Linked DNA regions of Homo sapiens: regions 1, 2 and 3 are each linked to region 4. The links come from fine-mapping of genetic effects on gene expression. A gene starts in region 4. Each other region holds a variant in brackets. All regions are shown on one strand. Distances are from middle to middle.

The links.
Region 1: its variant is fine-mapped to the expression of ADRB1 in whole blood (TOPMed, PIP 0.97).
Region 2: its variant is fine-mapped to the expression of ADRB1 in skeletal muscle (GTEx, PIP 0.98).
Region 3: its variant is fine-mapped to the expression of ADRB1 in whole blood (TOPMed, PIP above 0.99). The same link has a PIP of 0.9 or more in blood mononuclear cells.

Annotation. Positions count from the first base shown.
Region 1 is chr10:113,989,831-113,992,515 of GRCh38, reverse strand. No RefSeq gene overlaps it. Among named protein-coding and RNA genes, the nearest start is that of ADRB1, 53 kb to the left of the region's middle. The variant G/A (reference allele first, on the strand shown) is at 1,273.
Region 2 is chr10:114,001,769-114,004,453 of GRCh38, reverse strand. No RefSeq gene overlaps it. Among named protein-coding and RNA genes, the nearest start is that of ADRB1, 41 kb to the left of the region's middle. The variant T/A (reference allele first, on the strand shown) is at 1,299.
Region 3 is chr10:114,069,486-114,072,170 of GRCh38, reverse strand. The region is part of intron 1 of LOC124902554 (a long non-coding RNA gene); the gene reads left to right. Among named protein-coding and RNA genes, the nearest start is that of ADRB1, 27 kb to the right of the region's middle. The variant G/C (reference allele first, on the strand shown) is at 1,212.
Region 4 is chr10:114,042,576-114,045,260 of GRCh38, reverse strand. It overlaps ADRB1 (adrenoceptor beta 1), which reads right to left and starts at 1,395. Exons shown (of 1, transcript NM_000684.3): 1 at 1-1,395. The coding sequence starts at 1,128. RefSeq lists silencers at 1,298-1,357, 1,428-1,707 and an enhancer at 1,978-2,027.

The DNA.
Region 1 (2,685 bases), 53 kb after region 4:
CCTGCCTCTCTCTCTCACCCACCCAAATGTCGAATGCAGCTTGCTTTCCACAAGACACCCCGCTACAAGACTGTGGCACTTGGCCGACTTTACTGATGGCCTGGGGGAGATGGGGCGGAGTTGCAACAGAACATGACGCTGCGGTGACCTCTGTGTGCTTTTCCCTCCCAGGACCTCGGTCTCCTGAAGTGGTACTAGTCCCCTTTTGTTCCTGGGAACGGGTCTTGCTGTTCCCAGGTTTTCTCCCATTTTCTCTAGCCTCCCTGGCTATCCCATTCGTCTCTGCTAGACTGCCCCCAAATCTTTACATTCCTCACACTTTATTTTGCTTCTGAGCTTTTTCCTTTTTTAAATTTTCTTTTTATTTTTTGAGACAGGGTCTCGCTTTATCACCTAAGCTGGAGTGCAGTGGTACGATCCACAGCTAACTACAACTAAACTCAAACTCCTGGGCTCAAGCCATTCTCCAGTCTTGGCCTCCCAAAGTGTTGGGATTACAGGCATCAGCCACCGCACCAAGCCTGCTTCCAAGCTTTCTGATCTCACCCTTCCCCAGGCAGACTATGTTCACAGGCCTCTCCTCCCTCCTCCACCTGGCTCACAAAACCAATAAGGATACTTTTATCCTCAAGAATGAAAGAAAGAAGCAACAGTCTGCAGCAGAGAGGAATTATGCCATTCTTCTAGAAGGCAGCAGAGGCCCCCATCAACAGATTGGGTATTAGCTTTATTTCTCACTAAGCCATATCGCGCTCTTTTGGTCTAAGATCATGCAGGTTCTTTGTTGCACTGTGATCTAGGTTCAGGTACATAGTAAGTGTCTCTTATATGCCAGACATTCTAGTGGGTACTACAGATACAAGAGTGGACAGGACTGACAAGTTCCCTGAACTCACGCAGCTGAGGCAGACAGCCACATGCGGACTGTGGAAAGCCCCAGAAAATGCCTAGGCCCCACTCCAACAACATCCTATTTTACCTCTCTGGAAATTCAAGTTGCATGGACAGTAGCCGTAAAGTCTTGGAGTCATCATCCAGCGTCTACTCTGGTTCTGCCTCTGCCCCTGGCCAGGGGCTGGTGGCCAGTGCTGGGGACACACATTCACCATCCAGGTGGTAGCTGGAGAAGAGGCGAGAGATAACCTGGGGCCCAGAGAGATCAAGGCTGAGACCGCAGAACACCCACAGAAGCCGCGGCATTGCATTCCAATTTCTGTTTTGTGACCACATCTATGGACTCAGAATGAGGCATGGGGGAGCCACAGGAGCCAC[G/A]CATGCCACAATTATGGTTTTCAGCAGTTGTGCTCTCATCATTGTGGTTGGGCAGAGAGGCTTAGAACATGTACAGAAGAGAATGATTCTGAGCCTGCCAAGTGCTAAAATGCAAGGAAGCAGTTTAAAGCAGCCTCAGGGAGAAGAACCAGACCCTTCCCTGGCTCCCATGAAACTGGCTGAGACAGAAACCACTGGACTTTATTCTGTGTTTTAAAATTCTATATGCTTTACTTTCATTTCTTCTAGAATTTTCTGCTGTGCTTTCACTGCTATTTTCCAAAGGCATGAAAATAAAATCACTGGTTGACAACAAAGAAGCCACCTAAAACTTTGGTTCTGACCAACATGTGATCTAGACGAGAGCTTCTCAAGCTCACAGGCACATGAATCCCCTGAGGATCTGGTTCAAATGCAGATTTTAATCCAGTAGCTCCAGGGTGGGACCTGAGATTCTGCATTTCTGACAAGCTCCTGGGTGGTGCAAAGCTGCTGGACTGCGGGCCACCTGGGTCTACCAACACCATGTCTATGGTTCGGAGTCATGATGGGATAAGGACAATGGAACACCCGAGACAGGACAAGAGGCATATGTCAGTGACCAGGAGAGAAACAGCCTTTCTTTTCCCTCTGCTCTTCCCAAGGCTGCAGTTTGTGCTCCTGTAACTGGGTCTGATCTGCTGATGTTCATTCTCACCCTTGGCAGGCACCCTGGTCCCCTAGAATATTCCCATCCTTCAAGGAGGGAGCCATGTTTCCGAGACCCTTTACCTTTAGTAAGAAGAGCAGCTCTGAGTTCCAATATAGAATTTGATTTTTTTCTCGAACCAAAGTTGTATGGCCTTGGCCTGGGAAGGAATTACTCTCCTTATATTGCACAAGAGGAGATATGATTTATAATAGGCCTGATTGTTTCCTTGTTTATTCTTCACAACAAATCTGCAAGGAGTTCTTTCTATCTCCATTTATAGATGGGGGATACTGAGGCTCCAAGAGCAATCAGGTGACAAGTCCTAGGTCACGCAGCTGATCATCTGCAGAGCTGACTCAACAGACTGAGTTCTTTCTATCACATCTCACTGCCTTTCACTTATGCAGTTATTTAAAAAGCTTGGGGCTTGCCTGGATTTCAGACACTCTGAAATCCATTATTTCTGACCCCACTACCAAACAGAGTGACCCTAAATTGCTAAAGAAAAGAGATGAGTCTTTAAGTACCAGGCAAGATTTATTAAATAGACCAGTGGATTTACCCTAATGAACTTTTTGAATTTCGAGGGTAAAGAAAAAAAAGCATTGTAAGCATCCAGGAAAATTATTACAAATGAATAAATATCAGTGTGAATTTATAATTTTCCTGCATTACATGAAACAAAAGAAGCAACTGAACAACATCCACATAATTTGGGAAAA
Region 2 (2,685 bases), 41 kb after region 4:
GATCGTGCCACTGCACTCCAGCCTAGTGATGGAGTGAGACTCCATCTCAAAAAAAAAAAAAAAAGAAAGATTACAGGTATGAATATACTTACGCACTAATTTGGAAGAAGGAAGGGAGGGAGATGGTCATAGTAGCAAAGCCCTAGAGGAGGCAGGGAGAATGGGTGATCCAGGATACCCGTTGGCTGTTGGTAGAGTTTGGCTGTTGATAGGCAGATGGACGCTTGCTCAGTGGTAAGAGAAGACAGGATGGAGAAGGTTCAAATCAATGCAAACAGGCACACAGATTTAAGTTACTTCTGGCTAATTTTTGTTGTGTTTTTTTTTTTTTTGAGACGGAGTCTCACTTTCTCGCCCAGGCTGGAGGGCAGTGGTGCAATCTCGGCTCACTGCAACCTCTGCCTCCCAGGTTCAAGTGATTCTCCTGCCTCAGCCTCCCAAGTAGCTGAGATTACAGGCACGCATCACCAAGTCCAGCTAATTTTTTGTATCTTTATTAGAGATGGGGCTTAACCATGTTGGCCAGGCTGGTCTCAAACTCCTGACCCCAGATGATCCACCCGCCTCAGCATCCCAAAGTGCTGAGATTACAGGCATGAGTCATCGTGCCTGGCTATGTTTTTATTTTTTAAAATATATGTGAGGCAAGATTAGCAGTTGACAACTGGGGTGTAGAAAGAGAGAAAATGTTTGGGAATAGTATCTTGTTCAGTGGGAAAATATGCTTACTAGAAAGAGAAAGAATTAAACTATCAGGCTATGTTGAGGACCACTGGAGATAATACATTTAAAGTGAAATCAGATTACCCACTGACTGTGAGATGACTTTCGGTGGCACAAAACACAGGTTAAATAACAGTGAATTTCAGAGTGAGAACACTATTCTTTTTCAATTCTTTTTCAGTTAATAAGGAGAAAGTCTCCATGTGGTATGAGTATGTCGATAGCATCTCTTAACTTCTGCTACTGTCTCTTTTTATTCAAGACAGAGCAGGCTTCAGACTTGGAGCCTTCCATCTGAAATTACGTCAAGCAGGAATCTAATAATACTCCTTTGCTTTCATGGTACTTAATTTTTTATGACTGTTATGTTTCTGCCAAGTGATACTGGTTTTTCATTTATGTTGATGATATGCAATTTCTTTTAAAAAATAGAACTGAGTTTACAAAGTGAGGAAATATAAAGAGAAATCCGGAGCTGGGCGTGGCGGTGTGCGCCTGTAATCCCAGCTACTGGGGAAGTGGAGTGGGGAGGATCTCTTGAGTCTGGGAGTCAGAGACCAGCCTGGGCTACAGAG[T/A]GAGACCCTGTCTGAAAAAAAAAAAAAATTGGGTTAATAATAGAGTAGGGAACCAAGCACGGTGGCTCATACCTGTAATCCCAGCACTTTGGGAGGCTGAAGTGGGCAGATCACTTGAGGTCAGGAGTTCGAGACCAGCCTGGCCAACATGGTGAAACTCCGTCTCTACTAAAGATACAAAAATTAGCCGGGAGTGGTGGTGCATACCTGTAATCTCAGCTACTGAGAGGCTGAGGCATGAGAATCACCTGAACCTGGGAGGTGGAGGTTGCAGTGAGCCGAGATCGCACCACTGCACTCCAGCCTGGGGAACAGAGTGAAACCCCATCTCAAAAAAAAAAAAAAAAAATAGCATAGGGAGTGTTGGGACATGACCAAAATGGCGACAGCAGCATTGAGAAGATGGGATGCTGGGACACACAGCAGTACCTTGCGTGGCCTCTTCTGATTTTCATCAGGGCAAAATACTTTTAGCTTTTTTCTCTCTTGTACATCACTCACATAGAGAAGATGGGGCGTTGGGACACACTGCAGTACCTCATGTGGCCTGTTGTGATTTTTATCAGGGCAACACGGTTAGCTTTTTTTCTCTCCCGTAAGTTACTCTTAAAGACATGAGACTCAGAGGCCTTGAGGAGGGATGCACAGCCCTGTGGGGTAGGTACCACACAGATGAGTTAGGAGTCCGATTTTTCAGGAGCTGCCACATGGGCCAATCCAGTGACAAGTGCTCGAGTTAGGTGACATGGAGACCCCAGGCGGAAGAGCAGGCAGGCATGCTCAGTGCCCACCCCTCCCCTCCCAGACAGCTGCTGCTCCTGTAATAGAGCCCTCCTGGCTGCCATCTGTACCCATCAGCCCTCTGCAGCACTATCATCCTGCCTGGAGCCTGTTGTCATAGTATTCAGAGCGACCTGCCTGCTTTGCTGTGCGAAAGGGAAAGCTGGGAACACATCTTCAGCCAGTCCAACTTCATTCTCCTTTGGCCTTTGTGAGGGCCTGGATACAACCATTGGATGAATCCAACACTCAAATATTCCCAGTCAGTGGTGCCTTAAGGGAACTTACTTCCTAAATTGAGATTGTGCCTTTCTTGGTAGAAGAAGGAAAAAGTCTCTCTTCTTTGTAATGTATGTGCTAGATGTTATGTGCTGGAGGCACTGCTACTTGACTCTAGCAGTGTAGTATGTTGCACTAACTCTCACCCATTGGCCTGGGACTGTCCCCCTTTTAAAACAGAAAGTCTCACATTCCAGGAACCCCTTCAATCTCGGGCAAACTGAGATGATTGGTCACCCCAATCTTAGGTGGGGAGACAAGTGTATTGGTGTTTCTCTTGGACACCAAAGAATGTTTGGATGATTGTGTCCAGAGAAACTGTGTTTTG
Region 3 (2,685 bases), 27 kb before region 4:
CCTTGTTTGAAATTCTTCCCCTTATTCTTACTCTTCTCTATTTAATTCTTTTAAAGATGAAAATGCAGAGAAAACACTAGTCAGATACATTGCAATAAGAGAAGCTATTATAAAAGGTAATATACCAAAGAAATTCAATATAGTAAAAAATGAAAATGCTCTGAGGGTAAAGAGAAGACCCTTCTGTCGAATTGGAAAGCCTAGGAGATACCAGCAAATGACCTAGATTGTTGAAGCAAAAAATAAAAAAGGATTTTTATTAGGAGAAACTGACAGAGGGCCAAGTAAAATGTCCTGTGAAGGCGTCGCAGAGGACTTGACCAAAGGGTCTCTGGTACCCTTGTTCTTTGGTTTCAGCCACAGATGGGAATCTGGAAATACCCAAAGAGGTCTCCTTTGGGTGCTCTGCCTTCCAACCAGCCAAAGTTAAGCAAAATTCAAACTGTTGGCAGCCCTGTCCCCACCTCTAAACTCCTCCCATCCTCTCTAAGCTCCTCGGCCTCAAGCAAGGGTGGAAGAAGCCCACTGAAAACCACTCAAATATAGAAAATACCCTCCATTTTTCCAATGACCTATGTGCCACCTTTATTGACTTCCACTGACATACCCATGGCCTTCGTCAGAAGTTAGGGGACAAAATAAAAAGTGCATCATAGAAAGAATTGCAAATGTTACCTTAGAAGGACAAGCTTAAAGTTCAGTGCCTACAGACACCCATTCCCTCTGCTCAGTTTGAGCAGTTCCCTCTCTGGTATAATCCCACAGAGGTCAAGTTTATCGAAACTGGGGTGTCTTGTTCCCTCCAAAGTGGATGACACCCTTCAGATGTTTTCTTGAAGTGAGATGGGGAAGTCTGCCCACTAAGTTCCAGCGCTCACGAAATTTGAAAATGATAAAGTGATGTGTTGGAATTCAAGCTTGCAAATCCACATCTACATGTGACTCCTTATTAATAGATAATGCTGGAAGGACTGTGGCTGCAAAGTACATGTTTTGGAAATTATGTAAATATGTGTATTTATACAATGGATTATGAAAACCTTTGAAAAACAAATTGGGGTATTTACATCACAGACCTTGAGACTCCAAAAAAGTTGTTATGCTCTTTTATGTCAACTTCTGTTCACCAGCATGAGGTCTTTTAAAAAATATTGCCTAGGCAATGAAATAATGAGAGGAAACCACAGGAAAAAAATGAAAAACGTTAATGA[G/C]CCCTCCCTTCCGACCATTACTTTGCATGCTTTAAGGGGTGGAAAAAGAGTATCTTTCAGTGCAGGGAAGTTACAAACTGTGGTCAGAAATGAAAAGAGAAAGCAAGTAAGCCTTAATATAAGTCAGCTGAAACTCCATAAGAAAAGAACTACCAAGGCTGGCGGATCACTTGAGGTCAGGAGTTCGAGACTAGCCTGGCCAACATGGTGAAACCCTGTCTCTACTAAAAATACAAAAATTGCATCGTGGCAGGCACCTGTAATCCCAACTACTTGGGAGGCTGAGGCAGGAGAATCGCTTGAACTGGGAAGGTGGAGGTTGCAGTGAGCCAAGATCGTGCCACTGCACTCCAGCCTGGGTGACAGAGTGAGACTCCATCTCAAAAGAAAAAAAAAGAAAAAGAAAAGAACTGGAGCATTTACTTTTTTCTACTTGAATGAACTTTGTAGCCTGAGGGAGGGATGAAATGATTTAATTCTGGGAAAGAAAAAAAATGTGCTTTTCATCTTCAAAGCACTTTTATTTCAATAAAATAGCTCCATAACAAACATATCAAGGCTGATTAGTACTCACTGCAATTTTAAAAAATGTTGTGCTTCTTAATTTGATTTTTTAATTTGATCAATCAGAGATCCTCATGATACTCTGTGAGGTGCAGTTAATGTCTTCCTTTTGTCCATAATACTCATCACCTGAATCTTTTATTACCTAATAGGAACATTTGCCCTGTGGGAATCATCTTTTTTAAAGTTCTCAAAACTAGTGGTCTCCATATGATGTAGAAAAATGGATTTCAAAATGGATTGGCTGAAAAATAGCAAGTTGTAGATTCATGCCTATACTATGATGTGGCTATGGATTAATATCTACAATATGCTAAAAGTAATAATTAATTTTAAAAATAATAAGACAAAGCCAGGTGCAGTGGCTCACACCGGTAATCCTAAAGCTTTGAGAGGCTAAGGTGGGTGGATGGTTTGAGCTCAGAAGTTTGAGATCAACCTGGGCAACATAGTGAGACCCTGTCTCTACAAAAGATACAAAAAATTAGCCAGTCGGGGGTGTGTGCCTGTAGTCCCAGCGACTTGGGAAGCTGGGGTGGGAGGGTCGCTTGAGCTGGGGAGGTGGAGGTTGGAGTGAGTGATGATCCAGCCACTGCACTCCAGCCCGGGGGACACAGCAAGACCCTGTCTCAAAAAAAAAAAACAAACAAATTAGTAACAAGACAATATTCTATGATGTATCCATGTGTATGTGTGTATAGTGCATATATACACACACATATATATATATATTAACAGGTATGACAACTTGGTAAAGGAAACCTACTGAATTCATGATAGAGACTGGCTCTGGGGAGGAAAAAAGGAGACTAGTACAGGGTAAGAAACCAAGGAGCTTCAACTTGTCTTTATTTTTTAAAATACATTTAGGGCCGGGCGTGGTGGCTCATGCCTGTAATCCCAGCACTTT
Region 4 (2,685 bases):
GATGATGGGGTTGAAGGCCGAGTTGGCGTAGCCCAGCCAGTTGAAGAAGACGAAGAGGCGGTCGGGCACCAGCTCGCGGTGGAAGGCCTTCACCACGTTGGCCAGGAAGAAGGGCAGCCAGCAGAGCGTGAAGACGCCCATGATGATGCCCAGCGTCTTGAGCGCCTTCTGCTCGCGCAGGGCCACGAGGCGCGAGGGCCGCCGCTTACCCGCACGCCCGTTGGCCAGCGGGGCGGTGGCGGCGGCGGCGGCGGGGCGCGGGGGTCCGGGCGGCGGCGCGGGCGCGGGGACGGGCGAGGGCGAGGGCGAGGGCGGCCGCGCTGGGCCGCCGAGGAAACGGCGCTCGCAGCTGTCGATCTTCTTCACCTGCTTCTGGGCCTCGCGGAACACCCGCAGGTACACGAAGGCCATGATGCACAGGGGCACGTAGAAGGAGACTACGGACGAGGCGATGGCGTAGGCCCGGTTGGTGACGAAGTCGCAGCACTTGGGGTCGTTGTAGCAGCGGCGCGCCTCGTCGCTCTCCGCCCGCCACCAGTGCATGAGGATGGGCAGGAAGGACACCAGGGCCGAGATGGCCCACACGGTGCACACGAGGCCCCGCGCCCGCGCGCGCGTCAGCAGGCTCTGGTAGCGGAAGGGCGAGGTGATGGCGAGGTAGCGGTCCAGGGCAATGACACACAGGGTCTCGATGCTGGCCGTCACGCACAGCACGTCCACTGAGGTCCACAGCTCGCAGAAGAAGGAGCCGTACTCCCAGCGGCCCCACACCACGATGGTGGCCCCGAACGGCACCACCAGCAGCCCCATGACCAGGTCGGCGCTGGCCAGGGACATGATGAAGAGGTTGGTGAGCGTCTGCAGCCGCGGCGTCTTGGCGATGGCCACGATCACCAGCACATTGCCCGCCACGATGAGCAGCACGATGAGCGCCATCAGCAGACCCATGCCCGCTGTCCACTGCTGAGACAGCGGCTCGGGGCTTTCGCTGGCGGGAGGCAGCAACGAGGCGGGCGGCGACGCGGGCACCAGCAGCCGCGCCGCGGTGGCCGCGCCGTCGGGGAGCGGTGCGGCCGACGACAGGTTACCGGGCTCGGAGGCGCCCAGGACGAGCACCCCCGCGCCCATGCCGAGCTGCGGAGGCCGGGGGCGGGGGGTGTGGCAGGGCTGGGCCGTGGTTGGGGAACACCCCAGAAGCCCGGGCGGCGTGGTGCGCAGAGGGAGGTCGCGGCCGGGTCAGGGCAGCCGCGGCGCGGGGCCGGAGGCATGGGCGCCGGGCGCCTTTCCCGCAGGAGCCGAGCGCTGTCGCTGCCGCTGCCGCCGCCGCCGCCGCCGCCGCTGCTGCTGGAGCCGCTGCCGCTGCTGGAAGAGCCGCCGGGACTTCAGCATGTTTCTGAGCGCGCCGGGCCCGCAGCTCCGGCACCCAGCACCCACCCCACCCCGCTCCCACTCCCCAAGCCAACCCCCGGGGCCTCGCGTCAGGCTCCTGCAGCCAATCCGGGCAAAGGCACGCCCCCGTCTGGTCTGCACCCCCACCTCCAACTCCCCGCACCCCCCTCCCGTTGGCAATTGAGCGGCTCCTGAGAGTCCCGAGCTGATCGCGTAGCTAGTGCCTCCCGTGCGCCCGCGGGTTCCTGCGGACGCACCCCTTCCTGCGCCCGCTGGTTCCTGGTCCCTGTTCCCCCGCGCCCCCTTCCGCGCCTGGCTCCCCCCGGGGCCCCGTCCCCTCCCTCAGCCCCCACTCGCTCCCGCACCCACTCCTGCGCCCCGTTTGCCTCCCGCACCCGCTCCTGCGCCCCGTTTGCCTCCCGCACCCGCTCCTGCGCCCCGTTTGCCTCCAGCACTCGGCTCCCTCCTGCGCCCCCGCTCCCCCCGCATCCCCTCGACCTGCAGTTCCGGGGTTCTCTGCGGAACAGAGCGCTAGCTCCCTTGAGCGGGGAGGGGACCTTGGTGTTCAGGAAGCGCCAGAGCGCCTGGGACAGCTTGTCCGCCAGGCTTGGAGGAGTTTGCCCTGCGAGCTTGGTTGTGATGTGGGGCAGCCTAGCAGGGTGTGTGTAAAACCCTTCCCCCGTCAAGACGGGACCCAGCCAGCATGCGTCGTGACAGCTTGGGGGATTGGAGGTGGGTGTTAGTGGTTAGAAGAAACTTCCCAGCAGAGCGGGTTGCTGGAGCCAAGCGCGCATCTGTCAAGAATGCTCTCTGGGCGCTGTTCTTGCAAGGATCCTCTGTTGAACCTCGAGTGCAGTAGATGTGGAAAGGAAGCGAAGGTTTGTGCATCTAACAGCTAACGCTGAGGGCCCTTTGGAATCGTACACACTCCTCAGTCCTAGCTAATGAACGTGTGAGCATGATGCAAAAATGTATGCTCATGATATGAAAGGAGAGGCTTAGGGAGACAGAAACGTTGAGATACAGAGTAAACGATACCACCGCGAGGGGGAAAAAACGCGTTTAATTACATTTTAGACTTTTCAATGATAACACCTGTATTTTGTGTTTTATTACTCATGTGATTTTATAATTTGAGCTGGGTCAATACAAACAAAAAGGTACTGTCAGTTTATGCTGACGTAATGAACTGCGATTTCAGATTCCTTGGTCTGCGTGCTTGTTTTCTCCTTTGCCCAAGTTCCCAGATTCTCAAAACTCTGAGATTAGTTTTGAAGGGATGAGACAAGAAAACAT